7 linked regions of the Homo sapiens genome follow. The protein of the gene in region 7 purifies or fractionates together with the protein of the main gene of each other region. This does not show direct contact. Each region holds a gene or a part of one and is shown on either strand. Other genes may lie near its edges. The genes, in order: RAB29, EIF3B, DAPK3, TYSND1, SMARCA2, AHCYL2 and JOSD2.

Region 1 (2,498 bases), on a different chromosome or scaffold from region 7:
ATCAAATGGAAAAATAAGCTCAGAAGTAGGTGAGAATTATGATCTCTAAAACGCAGGTGCTGATTTCTAATCCTTCTCATAAAATTCCGGATCACAAATTGAGGGCTGATGAGAAGATCTTACACCGAAGGCACTAACTGGCACTAATGTGAGCCAGCAACATGTGAAAGGCTAATCCAGGAGATGCAGAAATGCACATGGGTTCCAGGTGTCTTTTCTAAGTGACAATGGGCCTCCTTACTGGACAGTAGTCAGGAGACAATTCAAATGTACTTAATAAAATTGTCAGGTGGGCAACCAAAGGGAAGAGACTTAAAAGACCTCCCAGAACTGGGATGGAAAATAAGCCAAACACTACTAGCAGCAGGACCAGCTGGAGGACTTGGTTTGTAGATTGATGTAGTCCCCTTGGGTGGACAAAGACATGATATCTTCTGTGGAATTTCTCATCATCTTTTCAATGAGGACTCTAAAAGACAAAAAATAAGCCTGAGAAGCTTATTTTGGAGGAAAAGCAGAAATGGCAGATGTAGTCTGACTTATCATCAGAGAGTATTTGGTAAAGCCAGAAGGTTTAAATGCCCCTTTGTCCCCAGTTATCTCAGGAAAGACAGTATCCCTGACCTTTAGGGGCTAGCATTCCAATGGCTCAGTCTGTCATTGTTGGCTCAGAAATAAGAAAAGAGGGTCCACAGGGCCACAGTGGAAGATGGATACATCTGCATGCCTATCAGCATGAGCTACTTACCTCATAGCCTCATTAATATTTTTGTTCTCCTTGACTGATGTTTCTGTCCAACCTGTGAAACCGTTCTCTTTACTGAACCGGTCAATCTGGTCCCGGCTCACTGCCCAAGGGGACAGATCACACTAGCAAAGAGAAAAAATAAAAGGCAGTATCATAAACTTCCTGCAACTAAGAAAGAATATGGCTCAGATACTGTGGATTTTAAACATATTTCCACCAATGGATAAGAACACCAGCATCGGAAATCTATAATCAACATTCTTCCCAAAGAAAGTCTCACCCTTGGCTGGGCGCAGTGGCTCACGCCTGTAATCCCAGCACTTTGGGAGGCTGAGGCGGGCAGATCATGAGGTCAGGAGAGCGAGACCATCCTGGCTAACACAATGAAACCCAGTCTCTACTAAAAATACAAAAAAATTAGCTGGGTGTGGTGGTGGGCACCTGTAGTCCCAGCTACTCGGGAGGCTGAGGCAAGAGAATGGCGTGAACCTGGGAGGCAGAGCTGGCAGTGAGCCGAGATCGCGCCACTGCACTCCAGCCTGAGCAACAGAGCGAGACTCCGTCTCAAAAAAAAAAAAAAGAAAGAAAGTCTCACTCACCCTCAACATCCTTTGAAGGAGGTAGAGATGATTTTGCCAACTTAAGAAGGGGAAATGGATGCCCAGAATCAGAGAGCATTTTACTTCCTTTCTAACCACAGATAGAGGCTAGGGACCATTTTCTGAGATTGGCCACATACCTTGTTGGCCAAGAGCAGGCAGGGCACCGGCTCTCCATTGGGTAGTGTGAGCTTGCTGTCTAGGTCCTGTTTCCACCTCTGGCTGTTGCTGAAGGTAGTGGCATTGGTAACGTCAAACATAATAACACAGGCAGAGGCATCCCGATAATACAATCGTGTCATAGAGGTGAAGCGCTCCTGCCCTGGGGAGAAAGGGGAGAGTTCTCAAGGTGACCCAAGAGCCGGCCTCTCCCCATTCCTTGTAGAAGAGGGCAGTAAGCATATGTGTCAGATGGGGCCACTCACTTTCCCCCTCTGACTCTTGGTTTTCTATCCCATAAAGGGATAATGAAGCCCAATTATTTCCAAGGCAGATTCCGCACCCAGATTGCTCCAGTCCAAATCCCTGCTCTGCTGCATACTATTTGACTTCGGGCAAATCAAGCTCTCAGTGCTTCAGATTTCTCATTTGTAAAGTGAAGATAAAAGCAGTCGCTTTTTTTTTTTTTTTTTGAAACAGTTTCCTGCACTCCTGTTGCCCAGGCTGGAGTGCAGTGGTGCCATCTAGGCTCACTGCAACCTCCACCTCCCAGGTTCAAGCAATTCTCCAAAAGCAGTAGCTTTTATGATAGGGTTGATGTGAGGATTAATGAGTCAGTGAATTTAAAATACTTAGAAGAATGCTTGGCACATAGTAAGGATTCACTATTTTTACTGTATCTATTTTCTGGGGATCTTGTTTTTCACCAAGGTCAGCCTTAAACCTAGAAAAAGCACCCTCCCCTGCTGTGGGAGTGTCCACCTATAGTCTGGACAATCCACCACCTTGCCAGCCCCTCCATCCACATAGAGACTGCTCCAGATCTATTCAGGGCAAAACATCTACAAAAGCTCTGCACCTATTCAGCTCATGTGTCCTCAGAGCAGCTCAATCATTCCAGCTTCAGAAAAACAATTTCTGGCTTTGCTGCCCCATTTTTTCCTCAGAGCTTTCTAGTTAAATCAAAATTTCTTCCCTTGTTCCTATCTAGC
Region 2 (3,500 bases), on a different chromosome or scaffold from region 7:
TTTGAGCTTGTGGGAAGGAGTACCCAATTTGTGTAAAAGTTGAGCTTTTTATTGCAGCCTTATAAATTCAGATCAGGCTTGTCAGGCTATTTAATTGTATGGTAAGTGCTTTAGAAGTTACCCTAGGATTTGACTAGTTTCCATAGCAGGGTGTCCGGCACTGCAGTGACTGGCAACTGCCTTTTTCCCTTTTTTTTTCTCTTGTTCGTCTCAATTTTAGCATCGTTGAAAATAAAACGGCGATTATTTTTTAAGGCAGTATTTTCAATATTTCCTTTTTTTTTTTGAGACAGAGTCTCATTCTCTTGCTCAGACTGGAGTGCAATGGCTCACCGCAGCCTCTGCCTCCCCGCTTCAAGCGATTTTCCTGCCTCAGCCTCCCAAGTAGCTGGGATTATAAGCATGTGCCACCATGCCTGGCTACTTTTTGTATTTTTAATACAGATGGGGTTTTGCCTTGTTGGCCAGGCTGGTCTCGAACTCCTGGCCTCATGTGATTTGCCTTCCTTGGCTTCCAAAAATGCTGGGATTACAGGCGTGAGCCACCATGCTGGGTCAGTTTTCAATATTTCCGAAAGTGTTTTTTTGAGACGGAGTCTTGCTCTGTCGCTGGAGTGAGCCACCATGCCCAGCCAACTTTTGAGAATAAATACAGTAAAGAATATTTTCGGACATCTGCATATTTAGTATGTTGGAATTATCATTATTATTATTATTTGAGATGGAGTCTCACTCTGTCTCCCAGGCTGGAGTGCAGTGGCATGATCTTGGCTCACTGCAACCTCCATCTCCTGGGTTCAAGCGATTCTCCTGCCCCAGCCTCTCCAGTAGCTGGAATTACAGGCACCCACCACCATGCTTGGATCATTTTTCTCGTATTTTTATTAGGGACAGGTTTCACCATGTTGGCCAGGCTGGTCTTGAACTCCTGGCCTCAGGTAATCTGCCTGCCTCGGCCTCCCAAAATGCTGGGATTACAGGCGTGAGCCACTGAGCCTGGCCGTGTTCTAAATTCTGACACGTGATGCTTTCCAGCAGCCCTGCGAGGCATTTCATCACATCAAGAACAGCTTCACCTACCACTAAGAAAAAAATACTGTTATTTAATCTCAGTGGGGGTGGCAGCTCCCACCTGTAGTCCCTGCTACTTGGGAGGCTGAGGCAGGAGGATTGCTAGAGCCCAGGAGTTCCAGGCTAGCCTGGGCAGCATAACAAGACCCTGTCTCTTTACAAAGAAAAAAAAAAGTTGTTTCAGGAGCTTGTATATTCTCCAGTCTCCTAGTTTAAGTGCCGGTCTCTGCCCTGATAGTGTTTTTCAAAAAGGCTCTTTGTGATATAATTAAGAAATGTGTATTTGGGCTCTGCCTGGCTCTTGGCACTCAGCGTCTAAACCCTTGTAATTTCCAAAGTGGTAAGTGTCTTTTTGTAGACGAGGACTTGATTGATGGCTGGGGCTCCTTGCCAGGGAACCAACCACGTGATTAGAGGGTGGGACCTTTTAGGTCTCCCCCTGCCACCCAGAAGGAAGAGGGCTGAAAGTTGAGTTGATCACCGGTGCTCAGTGATGTCATTAATCACGCCTCTATAATGAGATCTTCATAGAAACCCAAAAGGACCAGGTTCAGGGGCTCCATGCAGCGGAACAGGTGGAGGCTTCTGCAGGGTGGTGGCCTGGAGAGCACAGGGAGGCTCTGCGCTTCTCCTCCATCTGCCTTTTCGTCTATATCCTCTGTAACGTCCGTTATAATAAGCTGGCAAACCTAGCTCTCTGAATTCTGTAAGCTGCTGCAGTAAATTAATGGAACCCAAGAAGCGAGGGATAGTGGGAGCCCTGCTTTGTAGCCTGTCGGTCAGAACCGGAGGTGACAGCCCACTACTTGCGACTGCCATCTGAAATGGGGGCCAGTCTTTGGGGCTGAGCCTTCAGCCTGTGGGATCTGATGCTAATTCCTGGTAGATAGTGTCTGAATTGGATTAAGTTAGAGGACACCCAGCTGGTGGCCCCTGGAGAACTGCTTGATGCGACACCCACGTCCGGTGTCAGGCGTTGTGTTGAGTGTTACGTGAGTAGGAAAGACACTGTCACATCCCTGTCTCCTGCAGTTCAGTTGTTTATCCTTAGAGCTTTTTAACCTAAGGAATATTGGGTAAAGATTGTTCTGAACGAAGGTGCGTGGTGGTGGGCTCTGCAGCGGAGAGAGGTGGGGAAGCTCACCCCAGACGCGCTTCCTCTTTGGGTTTTTTCCCCATCCCCTGTGAATGGCCATCCAGTTCACGGCCTGAAAACATGAAAATCACTGGGAACAGGAGGTGGGAGAAGAGTTACTACTTTCATCCCAGTTCACTCGAGAGAGGGTTCCTCCTTGAATAATTTCTGGTAATTTGTATTCACAGCACAAATGTGCTGTGAATATATTGAGCATTTAAATATTTACTTGTTTGCTAAAATCTTCTGTAAAAAGTCAGTTTTCATTGACATTGGGATGGGATTCTGCCTGCCTAGATGTTGCAACAAACCTTTCAAAATCTAGGCATCTCTGGAAGATCTAATAGTGGATATTCTTGAGATGGTCTTCTTCATTTGCATTGTGCATTGTTAAAAGCTTTTCACTGTTATTCTCCTGTAGTCTTTGGTTATTACCAGAACTTAATTGACCTGTCTTGACTGTTTACATTTCCATCAAAGGGAGAGAGGAGAGTTCCAGTCCCCCCAGCTGTCATGTTTAAAATCTGAAACAAGCTAGGGTTAGGATTTCTTTTGCTCACAGTGAAAGCATTTAGACAATTCATTGTCTCTTCTTGAAGACTTGTTTAGTGTGCTCAGTTAATGTATTAATGTTTTTCTTGGTAAAAATGATCATTTGAAAAATCTCTCTTGTTCAGAATTACTGGGAGATGTACTCAAAGATCGGCCCCAGGAAGCAGATGGAATCGATTCGGTGATTGTAGTGGACAATGTCCCTCAGGTGGGACCCGACCGACTTGAGAAACTCAAAAATGTCATCCACAAGATCTTTTCCAAGTTTGGGAAAATCACAAATGATTTTTATCCTGAAGAGGATGGGAAGACAAAAGGGTGAGTGTTCTCCTGTTGGAGAAGTATCATCTGTGTCTGGCACGTCATGATGAGGGAGTGTTGCAGGAGATCCTTACTAACACAGCTCCTGCCTTGCCCAGGCACGTGGGCCGTTCACTTCTTCAGGCCGCCCTCAGCTGGAAGCTATCCAGAGCAGTGAATGAGAAGATGATAAAGTTTGTTTTTTTAAGTTAAGGTTTTAAAGTTTTTAAAATTATCTAGAATAGGCCAGCATGGTGGCTTATGCATAAACTCCCAACACTCTTGAAGCCTGAGGCCAGGAGTTGGAGGCTGCAGTGAGCTATGATAACGTAGCTGTACTCCAGTCTGGGTGACAGAGCAAGACTCTGTCTCTAAAATAAATAAATAAAGTAAAAACTAACTAGAATAGTTTTAGTTTCTAGAATTATCAAATACAGGTAAT
Region 3 (3,500 bases), about 47 Mb from region 7:
TTCTAGCGCTTTGGGAGGCCAAGGCGGGAGGATCGCTTGAGCCCAGGACTTCAAGACTAGCCTGGGCAACATAAGTTGACCCCCATCTCTCAAACAAACAGAAATTCATAATTTTAAAAAAAGTATTTAGCCTTCTGTTTTTGCCGTGAAGCCTTGGAGGTCTGGTGTGTATTTCATGTCGCAGTTTTTCTCGGGACTGGCCACACCTCACGGGTTTGACAGCTCTGGGTGGCCAGTGTCTGCTGTTCTGACGGCACTGCTTCAGGTAGTGGTCTGGAACATTCTCAGAGATACATGAAGTGCAAGATGAAGGCCCAGAATGTAGCAATTTTTGTTTGTTTGTTTGAGACGGTGTCTGGCTCTGTTGCCGAGACTGGAGTGCAGTGGTGCCATCTTGGCTCACTGCAATCTTCGCCTCCCGGGTTCAAGTGATTCTCCTGCTTCAGCCTTCCAAGTAGCTGGAATTACAGGCGCCCACCAACGTGCTCAGCTAATTTTTGTATTTTTAGTAGAGACGGGGTTTTGCCATGTTGGCCAGGCTGGTCTTGAACTCCTGACCTCAAATGATCTGCCCGCCTCTGCCTCCCAAAGTGCTGGGATTACAGGTGTGAGCCACTGTGCCTGGCCCCAGCCCACACTTTTTTTTTGAGACGGAGTCTTGCAGTGTCGCCCGGGCTGGAGTGCAATGCCGCAATCTCAGCTCACTGCAACCTCCGTCTCCCAGGTTCAAGCGATTCTCCTTGCCTCAGCCTCCCGAGTAGCTGGGATTATAGATGCCTGCCAGCACGCCCGGCTAATGTTTTTGTATTTTTAGTAGAGACGTGGCTTTCACTATGTTGGTCAGGCTAGTCTTGAACTCCTGACATCGTGATCTGCACGCTTTTGCCTCCCAAAGTGCTGGGATTACAGGCGTGAGCCACTGTGCCCGGCTTCCCAGCCCGCATTTTTAAACATCATGAACTCTATCAGTAGAAATTGTCGGTGTGTAGGCCACGCTTGGGTCGTGTCTGGGTTGTGGCAGGCACTTAGGAAGTGGGTTGGGAGTGACACCTGAGACCATCACTGAGGAGGGCTTGCTGTGCCCCCACCTGCGCTGGGGGCTGGGGAAGTTACAGAGAAGCGAAGAGGGTGGGCTCAGCTCTTGGGGAGTTTCTTTCCCGGCTGGGGAGATGAGGCACGTTTCACATTCCGTAGAGGAACTGAGAGCCTGCCAGTGGCCTTGCCTCTAAGGAGCAAGTCTGTGGCCAGTGAGACCGGGGGCTGTCTGGAGGTGGGCGGCTGTGGTCTGCTGTTGCTGTAGGAGGACTCAGTGGCAGAACCTGAAATCTGGTTGGCAATAGCAAAACAGGGAAAGGCGTGGTTTACAGAACCAGGTTGTCCAGGTGTGCAGCGGCCGCAGGTGTGACTGGGTGCTGGTGCATATGGTGCCCTGTGTCCCCGGGGCCGAAGTCCACTCCAGCATGGAGGAGGCGCCCTGGCAGAGTGAATGACGGGGCTTATGTGCCACCCGCAGTGCCTGGTGGCTCCCCTCTCCTGGCCTGGTCTGTTCTTAGGCAGGCTTCTTAGGTAGCCTTCTACGTGGTGGCCCCTGCCGCGAGCCTGGATCCAAGCCCAGCAGAGGGAGAGAGAGATCCTCTCTTCCCAGCAGGCGTTCAGAGCCCTGTGGACTGGACCGGTCTCTTTGGGCTGGAAGGCGTGGTTTTCTGCTTGCCCAGGTCCAGTCGTGTCCCCTTCCACCCCTTTCCTGGGCCACTGAGTCCCACAGACTGAGAGTGAGCGGCAAAGGCTGCCCTGGGACAGCTGGGTCTGTTAGCAGGAGACAGCGTGGAGCCGGGAGGTAGGCACGCAGGAACCCGGTACCCAGCAGCAGCTGTCTGCTTCCTGTTAGAGCACCTGGGCTCTGGAGCCTGCAGCACCTGGTTTGAAGGTTTGAATCCTCCCGCCACTGACTGACTGCATGACCTTGGGCTAGTTGCTTTCCTTTTCTCAGCCTTGGTTTCTTTAAAATGCGGATACTGGCCAGATGTAGCGGCTCCACCTGTACTGCCAACACTTGGGGTGGGGGAGTGGGAGGATCTCTTGAGGCCAGGAGTTCCAAAGCAGCCTGGGCAATACGGCAAGACCCTGTCTCTACAAAAAATAAATAAATCAGGTGTGGTAGTGTGTTCCTGTAGTCCCACCTACTTGGGAGGGATCACTTGAGCCCAGGAGTTCGAGACCAGCGTGGGCAACATAGTGAGACCTCATCCTTACAAAAAGAAAAAAAAATTAATTGGGTGTGGTGGTATGTGCCTGTAGTCCCAGCTGCTTGAGAGGCTGAGGCAGGAGGATTGCCCGAGCCCAGGAGGTCAAGGCTGCAGTGAGCCATGACTGAACCACTGCATTCCAGCCTGAGCAACAGGGCCAGACCCTGTCTCAAGACAAAACAAAACAAAAACAAAAAAAGCGGATCTGGCACTTGCCTTGCACTTTTTATTTTTTTGAGGCAGGATCTTGCTACGTTGCCCAGGCTGGAGTACAGTGGCACAATCTCAGTTCACTGCAACCTCTGCCTCCCAGGTTCAAGCGATTCTCCTGCCTCAGCCTCCCAAGTAGCTGGGATTACAGGCACCCGCCACCACACCCAGCTAATTTTTTGTATTTTTGGTAGAGACAGGGTTTCACCATGTTGGCCAGGCTGCTCTTGAACTCCTCAGCTCAAGTTATCTGCCCTCCTCGAACTCCCAAAGTGCTGGGATTACAGGCGTGAGCCACCGCGCCTGGCCCCCTCAGTTCCCTCTTGATATGCATTGAACTGTTCATTCTTTCACTTTTCAAAAATACGCCGGTGCCATGGTGTTAACGTGTGGCTCTGCACTCCCCTCCACACACCTGCTGGGCATAGCCCTGGGAGGGGTGGGAACGCCGCGTCTGATGGTGTGGGGCGCTAAGGAATTGCTCTCTGAGAAGGCGCAGAGTCTGCACCCCCGCAGTGGCCAGCTCATGTCCTTCAAGTGCCTGGTGCAGGGCCGCGCCCAAGAGGAGCAAGTGGAGGTGACGGGGAGCCAGCCACCCCCACTTACTCCCTCCGCCTCCTCCACCCCCACTCACTCCCTCCCCCTCCTCCAGCGGCCAGTTTGCGATCGTGCGGAAGTGCCGGCAGAAGGGCACGGGCAAGGAGTACGCAGCCAAGTTCATCAAGAAGCGCCGCCTGTCATCCAGCCGGCGTGGGGTGAGCCGGGAGGAGATCGAGCGGGAGGTGAACATCCTGCGGGAGATCCGGCACCCCAACATCATCACCCTGCACGACATCTTCGAGAACAAGACGGACGTGGTCCTCATCCTGGAGCTGGTCTCTGGCGGGGAGCTCTTTGACTTCCTGGCGGAGAAGGAGTCGCTGACGGAGGACGAGGCCACCCAGTTCCTCAAGCAGATCCTGGACGGCGTTCACTACCTGCACTCTAAGCGCATCGCACACTTTGACCTGAAGGTGAGCCCTGTAGGGCCCTGTGGGGCCGGCC
Region 4 (3,110 bases), on a different chromosome or scaffold from region 7:
ACCGAGCAGGCCAAACAAAATATGTCTGTGGGTCTGATTCATTCATTCATTCATTCATTCATTCATTCATTCATTCATTCATTCAACAAGCCTTTGTTGCGCGCCTACTTGGCACAAGGCACTGTTTCAGGTACTGGGGAGACTGCATGAACAAAACCTCAAAGTCCTGCCCTTATGGAGCTGACACTAGGTCGAGAGAAAGATAACAAGTGAAATAAGTGAACTATCTAGTGTGTTAGATTTTGAGAGTGTTAAGGAGAAAACGTAAAGCCAGGAAAGGGTGTGGGCAGCAGGTGTTCATGTCTAGAAGCTCAGCGTCTGTCACCACGTGGGGTGGTATCCAGCCCTACCAGGCCCTGGGGGCTCCAGGGTGGAGATGGTCCTCCTCCCTTCTCCAGCCTTTCTGCCCCCTGGCTCACATCCTCTTTTGCTCTCTGACTCCTCAACAGGCATAATCACCAGCAACACCCGGGACAATAATACGGGGGCCACCTACCCCCACCTGAACTTCAGCATTCCCATCACGGTGCTCCAGCCGGCCCTGCAGCAGTACAGCCAGACCCAAGACCTAGGTGGCCTCCGTGAGCTGGACCGCGCTGCTGAGCCAGTCAGGGTGGTGTGGCGGTTGCAGCGGCCCCTGGCAGAGGCCCCGCGGAGCAAGCTCTGAGGCTGTGTTACCACCTTTGGAAAGAAGAGTGACCTTTTTCTGCTGTAGGAAGTGATGTTGAGGTGACGGTGGCCTCAGGATTCAGGGCCCAGCCCCTGCAGGGGCCCAGGCTGCCTCTCATCTCCACCCACTGACTGCAGACTGGGCTTTGGGCTCTGGGGCAAACTTCTCTTCAGCCCCATGGATCCTTAACCTGGCAGCCCGTTTTGGGGTGCTTTCTTGAGCCCCCAGTTCTCTGTCCCCTAGCACTAGACTCAGCTGTATTGTTTTTCCTTCTGGGGAGCCCACTCCAACTGCACAGAAGTTCTGGGCCTGACAGGTAGATTCCAGCTGGAAGGCAGGCCCGTGCCTGGTTTTGCGTCTGTTCCCCTGAGGGCCATCGTCATCCTGGAGCTTCAATGGGGCCTTGGCTCCTGTCTGCCTCTCAGTCAGAGTCAGGGCTGACAAAGGACTCAGCTTCCTTAGCATCTCAGCAGAAACCTTGCTCTGAAGACCAGAGACAGAAGGGACAGAAACAGGAGTGCCTCCTGCTGTGCCAGGCCCATGGGCAGTGCAGGCAGATCCCTGAAGGTCAGCACTCCTGGGTCTTCATATGCCAACAGGGGCGCTCTTGACACTGTGCCTTCATTTTCCAGCCCACAGCCTGGGTCTCAGGGATCTTGAGGGGTAGAACATGTCTGGTTGGGGCTTGGGAATAAACATGATCTATTGAAAAACCTCTGTATTTATATATCAAATTGTTTCTTTTTTTCAGGAGTTGAACTGGGAATAGGCAAGTACCAGGCAAAGAAACACACCCTTTCCTTTTTTTTTTTTTTTTTTCTTTAGAGCTGTGGTCTTGCTCTCTCACCCAGGCTGGAGTGCAGTGTTGCGATCACAGCTCACTGCAGCCTCAAACTCCTGGGCTCCAGGAGACCTCCTGCCTCAGCCTCCTGAATAGCTGGGACTACAGTCGCGCACCACCACGCCTGGCTAATTTTTTATTTTTGTAGAAATGGGGTATTGCTTTGTTGCCCGTGCTGGCTTCAGCCTTCTGGTTTCAAGCAGTCCTCCTGCCTCAGCTTCCCAAAGTGCTGGGATTACAGGTGTGAGCCACTGTGCCCAACCCAGAAATACACCCTTTCTGTGCTGTTTTCTCAGCAGGGTGTGAGCTCACGGGATACGGTCCTGCCAGACTGGCCCTCATAGCTGGTCATGTGCCAGTCAGAGCTGGGTGGGGCTTGCAGGTCCCGGAAGGTGGTGGTCTTGACCTGGCAGCAGATGCTTAAAGAATGCCTAAGGTGGGTGGCAGTTGGGGAGTTCAAGGGTGAATGAGGCCAGGGCAGCCCCCAGGAGCTGAGGCCAACTCTTTGAGTCAGGACTGTGCCGTGTGCCCAGGGCCTTGCATGTGTGGGCCCTCGAGTGATTTCTACTGGCAGGCTGAAAGCCCTGTGAGGGGCGGCTGTGGGCGGAGGCCACGCAGGAAGAGTGCTTAGGAGTAACTTGTTTCTAACACCTGTGTGCTGAGTGCCAATGCTGGGTGTGGTGTTATGATATATATTGGTTTTCATCCAGCATTCCTGACTCGTAACTCTCATAGTCCTTGTTCCAGTCTTTGTTAGAATACTGGGTATGTTAGGGCTTGGGACAGGCCTCTGACCTCTGGGTATCCTTTCACTAATGTTCGCCCACCTTTTTCACAGTGGGTCCTAAAGACCTTCCCATGAGAGGGTCTCAATCCTAGGGGAAGGAATGTTGATGTCATGAACCTTCCATAAAAACCCAAGAGGACAGGGTTCAGAGAGCTTCTGGATAGCTGAACACCTGGCACTTCCTGGAGTGTGGCGTGCCCAGGGAGGGCACGGAAGCTCTGCACTCCTTCCCCTTCCCTCATTCCTTGCTCTATGTGCATCTCTTCATCTGTATCCTTTGCGATATCCTTTATAATAAACCGGTAAACATAAGTAAGTGTGTCTCTGAGCTCTGTGATCCACTCTAGCAAATTAATTGAACCCAAAAAGGAGGTCGTGGGAACTCAACTTGAAGCCAGTTGGTCAGAAGTTCTGGAGGCCTAGACTTGTGCCTGGTGTGGTTGAGGGGGGCAGTCTTGGAGACTGAACCCTCAACCTGTGGGGTCTGACAATGTCTCTGGGTAGATAGTGTTGGAACTGAATTAGAGGACACCCGGCTGATGTCCACTGCTTTTGGTGGGGAAACCCCACACACATTTGGTCACTGAAGTCTTCTGTGTTGATGATTGTGATGGCATGAGAGTAGAGGGAAAACACGATTTGAGGAGAGTTTTTCCTAAAACACGGGGCAATCACAGAACACTCCTGGGATGGTTGTTCCTCCCTTTACAGATTAGGAATGGGTCCAGAGGTCATGGCTAGTTTAAGAGAAGTTCTACAGTAAGTTAATGGTAGCAGAATCCTAGATCTGAGGTCTGACTTTGCTGTGAGAG
Region 5 (3,500 bases), on a different chromosome or scaffold from region 7:
CCACTTTGTCCTTGCTGGGCAACCGGTGGCCATGTCCTTATCCCTGCTCATGCTCAGTTTTCTCATCTATAAAACTGAGGTCATAAAAATGACCTCCAAGCATGTAAAATGTTTAGCATAGGCTGGGCTCCTAGCAAACACTGTTTTATTTCTTTTATTTATTTATTTTTGAGACAGGGTCTCACTCTGTCACCCAGGCCGGAGTGCAGTGGCATGATCTTAGCTCACTGCAACCTCCACCTCCCAGTAGCTCACTGCAACCTCCACCTCCCAGGTTCAAGTGATTCACCTGCCTCAGCCTCCCGAGTAGCTGGAATTACAGGCGTGTGCCACCACGCCCGGCTAATTTTTATATTTTTAGTAGAGATGGAGTGTCACCATGTTGGCAAGGCTGGTCTCAAACTCCTGGCCTCACGTGATCCACCCGCCTCGGCCTCCCAAAGTGCTGGGATTATAGGCACAAGCCGCCACACCTGACCTGCAAACACTTTCTGAATGTTGCCTTTGAATATTAGCCTACTACACATTTTCTACAACACTGCTGCTAATGCCACCTATCTTCTCTTCTTTACCACGGTGGTTCTCAAACCTGGAGGGCTTGAAGAATATGCCAGTGTTTGATCCAGTAGCCTGTTGTGGGGCCTGAGAATCCGTATTTCTGGCAAATTCCCAGGGGGAACTGATGATGTTGGGCCAAGGACCACACCTTGAGAATCACAGCTTTAGAAAATAATTGTCAAACTGAGTTGGAACTGTGAATTTTGCATAGAATTTTTTTTTTGCCAGGGGAAGAGGGGTGATGACAGGGTACTGTCTTTATTTAAAATGTTGATAGTTTGTTTATCATGGATTTGGGGGGCATTAATTTGGGTTTTTAAAATATTTACCTTTTAGGATATTAGTTGATGACTGGGTTTTGGTGCCCCCTTAAATTTTACACCCAAGGTGCGTGCCTCCATTGTTTGACCCTAGTTCCAGCCGTGACTGATAACCCAAATATTCCAAAGGTTAAGGGTGCTGTCAGAAGTTGAAAATTTCTTCTTAGTGAGGCATGTTGGCTCACAAATATAATCCGAGCACTCTGGGAGGCTGAGGCAGAAGGATAGCTTGAGGCTAGGAGTTCAAGACCAGCCTGGATAACATAGCAAGACCCTATCTCTACAAAAATGTTTGTAAAAAGAAATAGCCAAGTGTGGTGGCACGTGTCTATAGTCCCAGCTACTCAGGAAGCTGAGGCAGGAGGATTGCTTAGTCTAGGTGTTCAAGGCTGCAGTGAGCTATGATCATACCGCTGCCCTCCAGCCTGGGCAACAGAACAAAACTCTATCTAAAAAAAAAATTTTAAATATAATTAATAAATATTTTAAAACATAAAATTTCTTCTTTCCTATGTGTGTCTTCACTGTATACCTCTCAAAGTAAAGTACTAAAACCTATGTTTTACAGTATAAGCCGAGCCCAGTGGCTCATGCCTGTAATCCTAGCACTTTGGGAAGCTGAGGTGGCTGGATCACTTGAAGTCACCAGTTTGAGACAAGCCTGATCAATATATTCATAATAAGTACAAAAATCATGCCACAAAACTGTGTGCTATGTTTTTATAAACAAATTTATGTGTGGAAAAAAAGGTAACGTCTCAAAATATTACATGTATGTAGAGATATAGAATTACACGTTTTTTTACCTTTTCAAATATATTAAAAGTATAGACATGCTTTTAAAAAATTATTAGGTTTCTAATTACATGTTAATACAGATGATTTGGAAAATGTAATGATTTTTGTACTTATTATGAACACTTTCCATGGCAATGAGGGTTTTTCTACAGCAACATATATTAATATGTATAATACATATTAACATTCATTAATGAATGTGAATGTACTGTAACGTGTTAATTATACTCTGTTAATCAGGCTGTTTCCCAATAATGCTGTCCTGAGCATTTTACCCATAGATTATTGAAAAGATGTAAAATGTATGTGATGTATACACATTGCCACAGAGAATGGAGTTTCCATTCTTGCCCTCAACATACATAAGCGACTCTTTCCCAACGTCATTTTCTATTATCTATATTCTAGTTAGTGATTCTGCCTTTTATTTGTTATGAATTTAAACTGTCCCAAATTCATGTAGTTATTCCTTTGTTCTAGCATTTGAATACATCTGCATCATCTATTTTAGCTATATATTTCATTATTTTAGAGCCAGATTTCTAATCTGTTTTCAAAGAGCTGCTCTCTTCCCCCATCCATCAATTTAGTTTAATTTCTCAAGCCTTGGTATATTAATTTTCTATTGCTGCTATAACAAATTACCACAAACTTAGTGACTTTAATACAACACAAACTTATTACCTCTTGTGGGTCACAGGTTCAGCATGAGTCTCCCTGGACTAAGATCAATGTGTCAGCAGCCTGCATTCCTTTCTGGATGCTCTAGATAGGAATCCCATTTCCTTGTTCATCCTGGTTCTCAGCAGAGTTCAATTTCTTGTGTTCGTAGAAACAAAGTTCCCACTTTCTTGCTGGCTGCCAGTGGAAGGCTGTTCCCAACAGTGTTCTTTGGCTCATTGCCTCCCCACCCCTACCCCTTGTTCCAACTTTAAAGCCAGCAATGACAGGTACAGTCCTTCTCATGTTGTGTCTCCATGAATCTCTCTTTTGCGTCTTCCTCTTCCACGTTTAAGGATGCAGATGATTAGACTGGGCCCACCTGGATAATCCACTATAATTTCCCCATCTCAGGGTCAGACAATTAACAGTCTAAAATTCCTTTTGCCATGTAATATAACATATTCAGAGGTTCTTGGATTAGGATATGGACATCTTGTGAGGAGATGATATTCTGTCCACCACACTTGGTAGCTAGAACTTTTCATAGGTGCATATGGTTGTATCATAAAACCTTAGGAAGCTGTTTATAGGGCTCACCTAATGGTCCAGTTTATTAGCCTGCTTGTCCATAGTCTGTCAGGTGGGTTTTTTGGAGAGACATATCCACTGACGCGTGCCTGACAGCATTAGAGTGCGCCACACTCCAAGGCACATTTAGATTACGCTCTCAAGGATACATTTTCTTACCCCTATTGCCTGTCTTCTGCCCATTCATTTCCTATACTCCTGTGTCAGGGAGAGCCCACACCTGTATAAATGGACATATTTCACTTTGTCTTTCCACACTGTTTAGAAATGCCCATTATGACTGGCTTCTTTCATCTATTTCTTTCGACGTCCTACATCTTTCCGTTTTCATTAGTAGGTAGGCCTTTTCATCTCCAGTCTCTTCTTCTTCTCCTAAGTTACTCCACCCAAAGCAAAGGGCCCCACCTTATAGCTTGTCAAGCAGCAGACAGTGGGTATAATAGATAGAAGCCTTGGCTAGGAGTACTATTTTGTGTATTAGGATTTGGAATGGAGGAAAGGCAAATGCTACCACCACACTTGAGTTCATAACAGCACAGCTCTCATCTCTTCTGTTAGCTTATGTTTCTGTGG
Region 6 (3,500 bases), on a different chromosome or scaffold from region 7:
AAATAATTTAGAGAGGTACAACTGAGGCAGATGGGAAGAGAACAATCTTGGCAGTTGCCCTGATCCACTGCCCTGCTGTCATGTTTAGGTGGTAGACACAATTAGAGGAGCTGAAATTCCATTCACCCAACAAGAGGTTTAGTAAACTTGATCAGATTTCTATGGAATTTGTAGGAGCTTTTTATAGTCTGAATGACCTATGGCCTGCGATTTGGTGAGAGCAGAGCAGAAAGCGGCAGTGGATTGACGTTTCTTCTGTAACAGTTCCCAACTCTAAAATTACTTTGATTAAATTAGATGATTATTTGTATGGGTTTCAGTCTCCCTTTTCCCCAGCTGTATCGTGCAACAGTTCAGTTAGCTATTTCCCTCTTGGACGCTTGCACTAAAAGCTGGTGATTTTATTTTCTTTTTTTTTTTCAAGGGTCTATCAGTAGAAATCTATTGGTTTGGGGCACCTAGTTCTTAGCTTAGAACCTATATAAAGGAAGGGTATTTGAACTGCTGATTGAGTTTCTCTGAGTATAGGACTTTAGCCTTTCTGAATGTTGCAAACCTGAGGCTAAAACTAGCTTCATCTTCTCTGCACACACTTACATTCTACAGTGCTCCAAGGTGAAACTTCATCTATTGACTACCTTTTCTTGGAAACTCTTCTCTTGGCTTCAGTGTCACTTATAATTGCTACCATTTACTGAATACTTACTCCGTGTCAGGAATCTCTGTCTTAGTATTTAATCCTCATGACAACTTTATCAGATGTGTAGTACTATCTTTATATTATGGATAAGAAAATATAGGCTCAAAGAGAGTAATTAACTTGTCCAAGGCTTTGTCAATGAAATGCTGGCCATAGCAATATTGGGCAGCTTTGCCTCTGTGCCAACACCCGTGCTGCTCTGACCAGACTCCCACTGAAGTCTGCTTAAGCTGCTGCTAAGACCACTTTGGATCTCACAATCTAGCCTCTTTCAAGGGGAGGCCTAAACACCATGCCTCACATCCCTGTTTGTTTCAGTCACTACCCGCCATCCGCCATCCATTATCTTCCCAATACTAATTCCTTTACCACTCTCTTCATCCTTCAGCTGATTCAGTCCCTCAAACTGTTCCACCATGTTCTTTACAATATCCCCCTCCTTGATCAGCAGATTCACATGTAGTATCAGTCTCTAGCAGCAAGATCAAGTTATAAGGGCAACAGTGGCAAGTGTTAGCACTTAGTATCCAGAACTGTGATGGTGCAAACCAAGCTGCAGCATCTCCTGCTTGGCATTAGCAATCACATCTTTGCCAACCCAGTTCTGTAATTTTGAGTGTTGTTTTAGCTGTGTAGCACTTAAGTTCTTCACTGAAAAAGTGACCTCATATCCTTTCTGTAAATTCTTTTTCTGTTTAATTCAGCCAGTGTTGACTTCTGCTGCTTGTAGAACTTGGAGTGATGTACGGGTTGAACCTAACCATCTACCTTCTTAGTTGCTGGCACTCATGGAGCTGAGAGTTGCTAGAGAAAATCAGCAAATTAGACAGATCAGTGTCATTAAAAATTTATAATCATCTATTTCATATGCATAATCAGCATTACCTAGCAATGTTATACATTTCTCTAGTTCACTTTCCAGCTCACTGCGAATTATTTCTTCATATTGTCTCTTTCTCTTTTCTTTTTTACTGAGACAAGGTCTCCCTCTCTCACCCAGGCTGGAGTGCAGTGGTACAGTCACAGCTCACTGTAGCCTCAAACTCCCTGGTTCAAGCAATCCTCCTGTCTCAGCCTCCTGAGTAGCCAGAACTACAAGTGTGCTACCACGCCTGGCTATTTTTTTATTTTTTTGTAGAGACGGTATCTTGCCATGTTGCAGGTCTCCAATTCTCGGGCTCAAGTGATCCTCCTGTCTCACCCTTCCAAAGTGCTGGGATTATAGGCATTAGCCACTGTGCCTGGCCTACTGTCTCTATTTCTTTTTCTCTTTTTTTGAGATGGAATCTTGCTCTGTCCCCAGGCTGGAGTGCAGTGGCGCGATCTCCGCTCACTGCAACCTCCGCCTCCCGGGTTCAAGCGATTCTCCTGCCTCAGCCTCATGAGTAGCTGGGACTACAGGCACGCACTACCACGCCCAGCTAATTTTTGTATTGTTAGTAGAGATGGCGTTTCACCGTGTTCGCCAGAATGGCTCAATCTCCTGACCTCGTGATCCGCCCTCCTCAGCCTCCCAAAGTGCTGAGATTATGGGCATGAGCCACCGTGCCCAGCTCTTATTTCTAATCTCTCATATTTTCTTCTTTTTTAACCAGTCATAGGCTTTATGCCTCATTATAAAAATGGAAGCTGCTGAATGGGAATTCCTTCATTCTTTTACCTCCCAAGTCTACAAACCTATGTGCATCTGGGACTCATCTTTTTCTCCTTCATTCTGTCAAGACCAATCCCTTCACAGGTGCTGTAATCATTCTTTTCTCCCCCTCCCCCCTTCCTCCTCCTTTCTTTTTCTATCTTTCTTCTCTCTCTTTCTCTTTGTTTTCATTCATTTTTCTTCAAGAGATGAAGTCTCACTCTGTAGCCCAGGCAGGAGTGCAGTGGTGTGGTCATAGCTCATTGCACCCTCAACCTCCTGAGCTCAATAGAACCTCCCTTCTCAGCCTCCCGAGTAGCTGGGACTATAGGTGCATGCCACCATACCTGGCTAATTTTTTTATGACTTTCTTGTAGAGATGGGGTCTCTTTTTTCCCCCTAGATGGAGCCTTACTCTGTCACCCAGGCTGGACTGCAGTGGCACTATCTCGGCTCACTGCAACCTCCGCCTCGTGAGTTCAAGCAATTCTGCTGCCTCGGCCTCTCAAGTAGCTGGGATTACAGGCATCCGCCACTGTGCCTGGCTAATTTTTGTATTTTTAGTAGAGACGGGGTTTCACCAGGTTGGCCAGGCTGGTCTGGAACTCCTGACCTTGTGATCTGCCCACTTTGGCCTCTCAAAGTGCTGGGATTACAGGCGCGAGCCCACACCTGGCCAAGATGGGGTCTCTTGCTATGTTGCCTAGGCTGGTCTTGAACTCCCAGCTTCAAGTGATCCTTCCTCCTTGGCCTTTGAAAGTACTGGGATTATAAGCATGAGCCGCTGCACCCAGCCACATTTTAAAAACTTTTTGTAGAGATGGTGTCTCACTTTGTTGCCCAGGCTGGCCTCGAATTCCTCGCTTCAAGCAGTCCTTCTGCCTCACCCTCCCAAAGTGCTGGGATTACAGGTGTGAGCCACTGTGCTTGGCCTCTCCTGTCTTAAAGAATTTCTTCCTTTGGTTTATTTCATCTTTCTACTAGGTCTTTTCCTTCAGAATTCACACTTGCCCTATTGTCTCCCATTTTGAAAACCCTGTCCTTTGACCTGCATATTTTCTGTTGCTGTCATGTTTTTCTATTCTCTTTCACAGGCATGCTTCTTAAAGGAGTTTTCAGTACATGCTATATGTGCTTTTTTCCTCTCATGAATTCCTTAACTCACTC
Region 7 (2,694 bases):
AAAATTTAAAGAAAGTAGTCAGGTATGGTGGCATGCACCCGTGGTCCCAGCTACTTGGGAGGCTGAGGTGGGAGGGTCGCTTGAGCCCAGGAGTTCAAGGCTACAGTGAGCTGTGATTGACCCACTGCACTCCAGCCTGGGTGACAGAGTGAGACCCCTGTCTCAATCAATCAATCAAATAAAGAAGTAAACACCTGCTTTCTCCTTAGCAATGACCCCCGTGGAACCCAGGAGATCAAACTCATTTGTTTGCCACTGGTCTCTCTCCAGCACCGGAGGAGCGTGAGCCCCAGGGGGCACGGACTTGTGTTTTTTTCTGCTGTGTCACTGATGAGGAAACTGAGGCCCAGCAGTGAGAAACTGGCATGAGGTGGCAGAGAACCAGGAGGCCTCCTGGGCTCTCGGCCCCACACACCAGGGTGTCTGGCCTGTAAGGTAAGTGGGAGTCACTGAGTGGAAGGGGCCCCAGAAGGGTGGGGCCGTCAGACACAGGCCAGGCAGGCAGCAAATCAGCAGATTTATTGAGGCAGCAGCGGCAGTGGGGAGCAGGGGTGTGGGGAGGGGGCGGGGCCTCCCCAGGGTCCATGAAGTGCTGGCCTTTCCCAGGCATGCAGTGTGCGCAGCCGGAGGGGGATGCGCAGGGACTGCGCTGTGGGCGCCGATGGTCAGCCATGGTCAGTCTGTCCGCAGCCAGCTGCCCTTCTCCTCCACCTCCTTGGTCACTACCAGCAGCACCTCGCACAGGCCCTGGGCCAGCGCAGCCGCCAGGAAGGCCCTGGGTGGGAGAAATGGGGAGACTGAGGCTCGGCCAGCCTGGGCATTCCGTCTGGGGAGTGGGGTTTCAGGCCCCTGGTCTTGGAATCGCCTCTGTGGGGCTCACCTGACTCCGTCCTCATCCCCCAGGGCCTCGGGCGCCCGCAGCTTGGAGTCCAGGTTGTAGTAGACACCGTCCACCTGGCGCAGGGCCACCCAGTGCCGCCGGCGCAGCGGCAGTGACAGCAGCCCCAGCGACACGGGCGAGGGCAGGTTCAGGATCAGCCCCAGTACCTGGGGCAGGGCCAGCTGGGACAGGGGCCTGTGTGGGCAGGGAGGGGACACTGCCATCAGGGCCTGCTCCGCCCGCCGGTGAAATGTTGCTGAACATGTGGGGCCCAGGCTGGTGGTGGTGAGGGCCTCCTGAGCCCACCCAGAGGTGTTCCTTAATCAGCCACCCTGGTTCCCGACACTCATCCGTTCACCTGCCCACTCAAACCTCCCACCCATGCGGCCACCCAACCAGACCTCCCACCCACCCACCCACCGTCCACCCACCCACCCACCGTCCACCCAACTCACATCGGCCCTTCACCAACCACCATCACCCTGTCTGTCCAGCCACCCACCCACCAACTTACCAACTCCTCACACAGCCACCCAGGATCCATGCATGATCCGCCCACCCCACTGAGCCTCCCAGCCACCAGCCAACTTCCCAATGACGATTCACACACTCACCTCCCATCTATGCATTCACTTCCATCCCTCATATACACCCGCCCCACCTCCCCGTCAACCACCCAACCACCATCACCATCCAACTAGCCATCTACTGTTCACCACCCACCACCCACCCACCCACCCACACAGCCGGCCACCACCCAGCCAGCCATTCACCCAACAGTGGACTCGCCATGCCCCCAATCCTCACTCACTCTTGACCCCCCTGCCATTGGTCTACCCCTCATCCACCAGCCACATGCCCAGCCACTGGCCAGCCGGCCATCAAAACTTCCCATTCATCCACCCAACTCCCCAGCCTCCTGTCTGCTGCCCATTGCCCAGGAACACCCATCACTTCACTCCCCCTGACCCAACACATCCAACGGCCTACTCAGCATTCACCCAGTAACCATCATCCACCCAGCATCTCAGCCCATCGACCACCTGATCTCCCCCTTTCAACCCATCAGTGCCAGGCTTCCCACATTCATGCCAACCTCCCCCAGCCACATTCCCCTCCCTGCCCCCCAACAGGCTCACACTATAGGGTGCCCTCTGTGCCCGGCCCAGCACATGCTGTGCTGCTCTGGGGCCTACCTCCTCCTGTCCCACCACACGGCGGCCAGGCCCAGCCCCTGCAGAGCGGCCATGATCACATTGACATCATAGTTGCCGGTGCCCAGGAGGCTGCGATGAGGGTTCAGCCGGGAGTCTGGGGCCAACCTGGTAGTGGGGGTGGCCAGAGCTGAGGTGGGGACCCCTGGAAAGGCCTCCCCACAAAATGGGGGTCCCAGGGGCCACAAGTTGCCTCAGCCTTTGACTCTCCCCGCTTCAGACCCCACAACTCATCCACCCCCAAGTCCTGCCTCTCCTGCCCCAATTCTGCCCTGTCCCCAAGTCCTGTCTCTCCTGCCCTGACTCTGCCCTGTCCCCAAGTCCTGCCTCTCCTGCCCCGACTCTGCCCTGTCCCCAAGTCCTGCCTCTCCTGCCCCAACTCTGCCCTGTCCCCAAGTCCTGTCTCTCCTGCCCTGACTCTGCCCTGTCCCCAAGTCCTGTCTCTCCTGCCCTGACTCTGCCCTGTCCCCAAGGCCCCAGATGGGCTCTGTCTTCTCCCGCAGCCTCCAGCCTCCCTCCAGTCCATTCCCACACGGCCCTGGCCCTCTCCTGCTCTCAGCTCTCCCATGGCTCCCCAATGCCTTGGACAAAGTCCCTGTC

What was found.
Region 1: the proteins of JOSD2 (region 7) and RAB29 purify together in Homo sapiens (affinity purification with mass spectrometry, with the first as the bait; 2 studies listed by BioGRID). This does not show direct contact.
Region 2: the proteins of JOSD2 (region 7) and EIF3B purify together in Homo sapiens (affinity purification with mass spectrometry, with the first as the bait; 2 studies listed by BioGRID). This does not show direct contact.
Region 3: the proteins of JOSD2 (region 7) and DAPK3 purify together in Homo sapiens (affinity purification with mass spectrometry, with the first as the bait; 2 studies listed by BioGRID). This does not show direct contact.
Region 4: the proteins of JOSD2 (region 7) and TYSND1 purify together in Homo sapiens (affinity purification with mass spectrometry; 4 studies listed by BioGRID and IntAct, with this or other methods). This does not show direct contact.
Region 5: the proteins of JOSD2 (region 7) and SMARCA2 purify together in Homo sapiens (affinity purification with mass spectrometry, with the first as the bait; 2 studies listed by BioGRID). This does not show direct contact.
Region 6: the proteins of JOSD2 (region 7) and AHCYL2 purify together in Homo sapiens (affinity purification with mass spectrometry; 5 studies listed by BioGRID and IntAct, with this or other methods). This does not show direct contact.

What each region holds. Positions count from the first base shown.
Region 1 is NC_000001.11:205,769,985-205,772,482, forward strand, and holds part of RAB29 (ras-related protein Rab-7L1), read right to left. Parts: intron 1,670-2,498; coding exon 1,488-1,669; intron 871-1,487; coding exon 749-870; intron 470-748; coding exon 358-469; 3' UTR 1-357. UniProt on the Homo sapiens protein: The small GTPases Rab are key regulators in vesicle trafficking. Essential for maintaining the integrity of the endosome-trans-Golgi network structure.
Region 2 is NC_000007.14:2,357,827-2,361,326, forward strand, and holds part of EIF3B (eukaryotic translation initiation factor 3 subunit B), read left to right. Parts: intron 1-2,883; coding exon 2,884-3,076; intron 3,077-3,500.
Region 3 is NC_000019.10:3,964,600-3,968,099, reverse strand, and holds part of DAPK3 (death-associated protein kinase 3), read left to right. Parts: intron 1-3,108; coding exon 3,109-3,469; intron 3,470-3,500. UniProt on the Homo sapiens protein: Serine/threonine kinase which is involved in the regulation of apoptosis, autophagy, transcription, translation and actin cytoskeleton reorganization. Involved in the regulation of smooth muscle contraction.
Region 4 is NC_000010.11:70,137,481-70,140,590, reverse strand, and holds the end of TYSND1 (peroxisomal leader peptide-processing protease), read left to right. Parts: intron 1-449; coding exon 450-667; 3' UTR 668-2,610; downstream 2,611-3,110. UniProt on the Homo sapiens protein: Peroxisomal protease that mediates both the removal of the leader peptide from proteins containing a PTS2 target sequence and processes several PTS1-containing proteins.
Region 5 is NC_000009.12:2,186,347-2,189,846, forward strand, and holds part of SMARCA2 (SWI/SNF-related matrix-associated actin-dependent regulator of chromatin subfamily A member 2), read left to right. Parts: intron 1-3,500. UniProt on the Homo sapiens protein: ATPase involved in transcriptional activation and repression of select genes by chromatin remodeling (alteration of DNA-nucleosome topology).
Region 6 is NC_000007.14:129,231,530-129,235,029, forward strand, and holds part of AHCYL2 (adenosylhomocysteinase 3), read left to right. Parts: intron 1-3,500. UniProt on the Homo sapiens protein: May regulate the electrogenic sodium/bicarbonate cotransporter SLC4A4 activity and Mg(2+)-sensitivity. On the contrary of its homolog AHCYL1, does not regulate ITPR1 sensitivity to inositol 1,4,5-trisphosphate.
Region 7 is NC_000019.10:50,505,498-50,508,191, forward strand, and holds the end of JOSD2 (josephin-2), read right to left. Parts: intron 2,203-2,694; coding exon 2,077-2,202; intron 1,076-2,076; coding exon 881-1,075; intron 776-880; coding exon 676-775; 3' UTR 501-675; downstream 1-500. UniProt on the Homo sapiens protein: Cleaves 'Lys-63'-linked poly-ubiquitin chains, and with lesser efficiency 'Lys-48'-linked poly-ubiquitin chains (in vitro). May act as a deubiquitinating enzyme.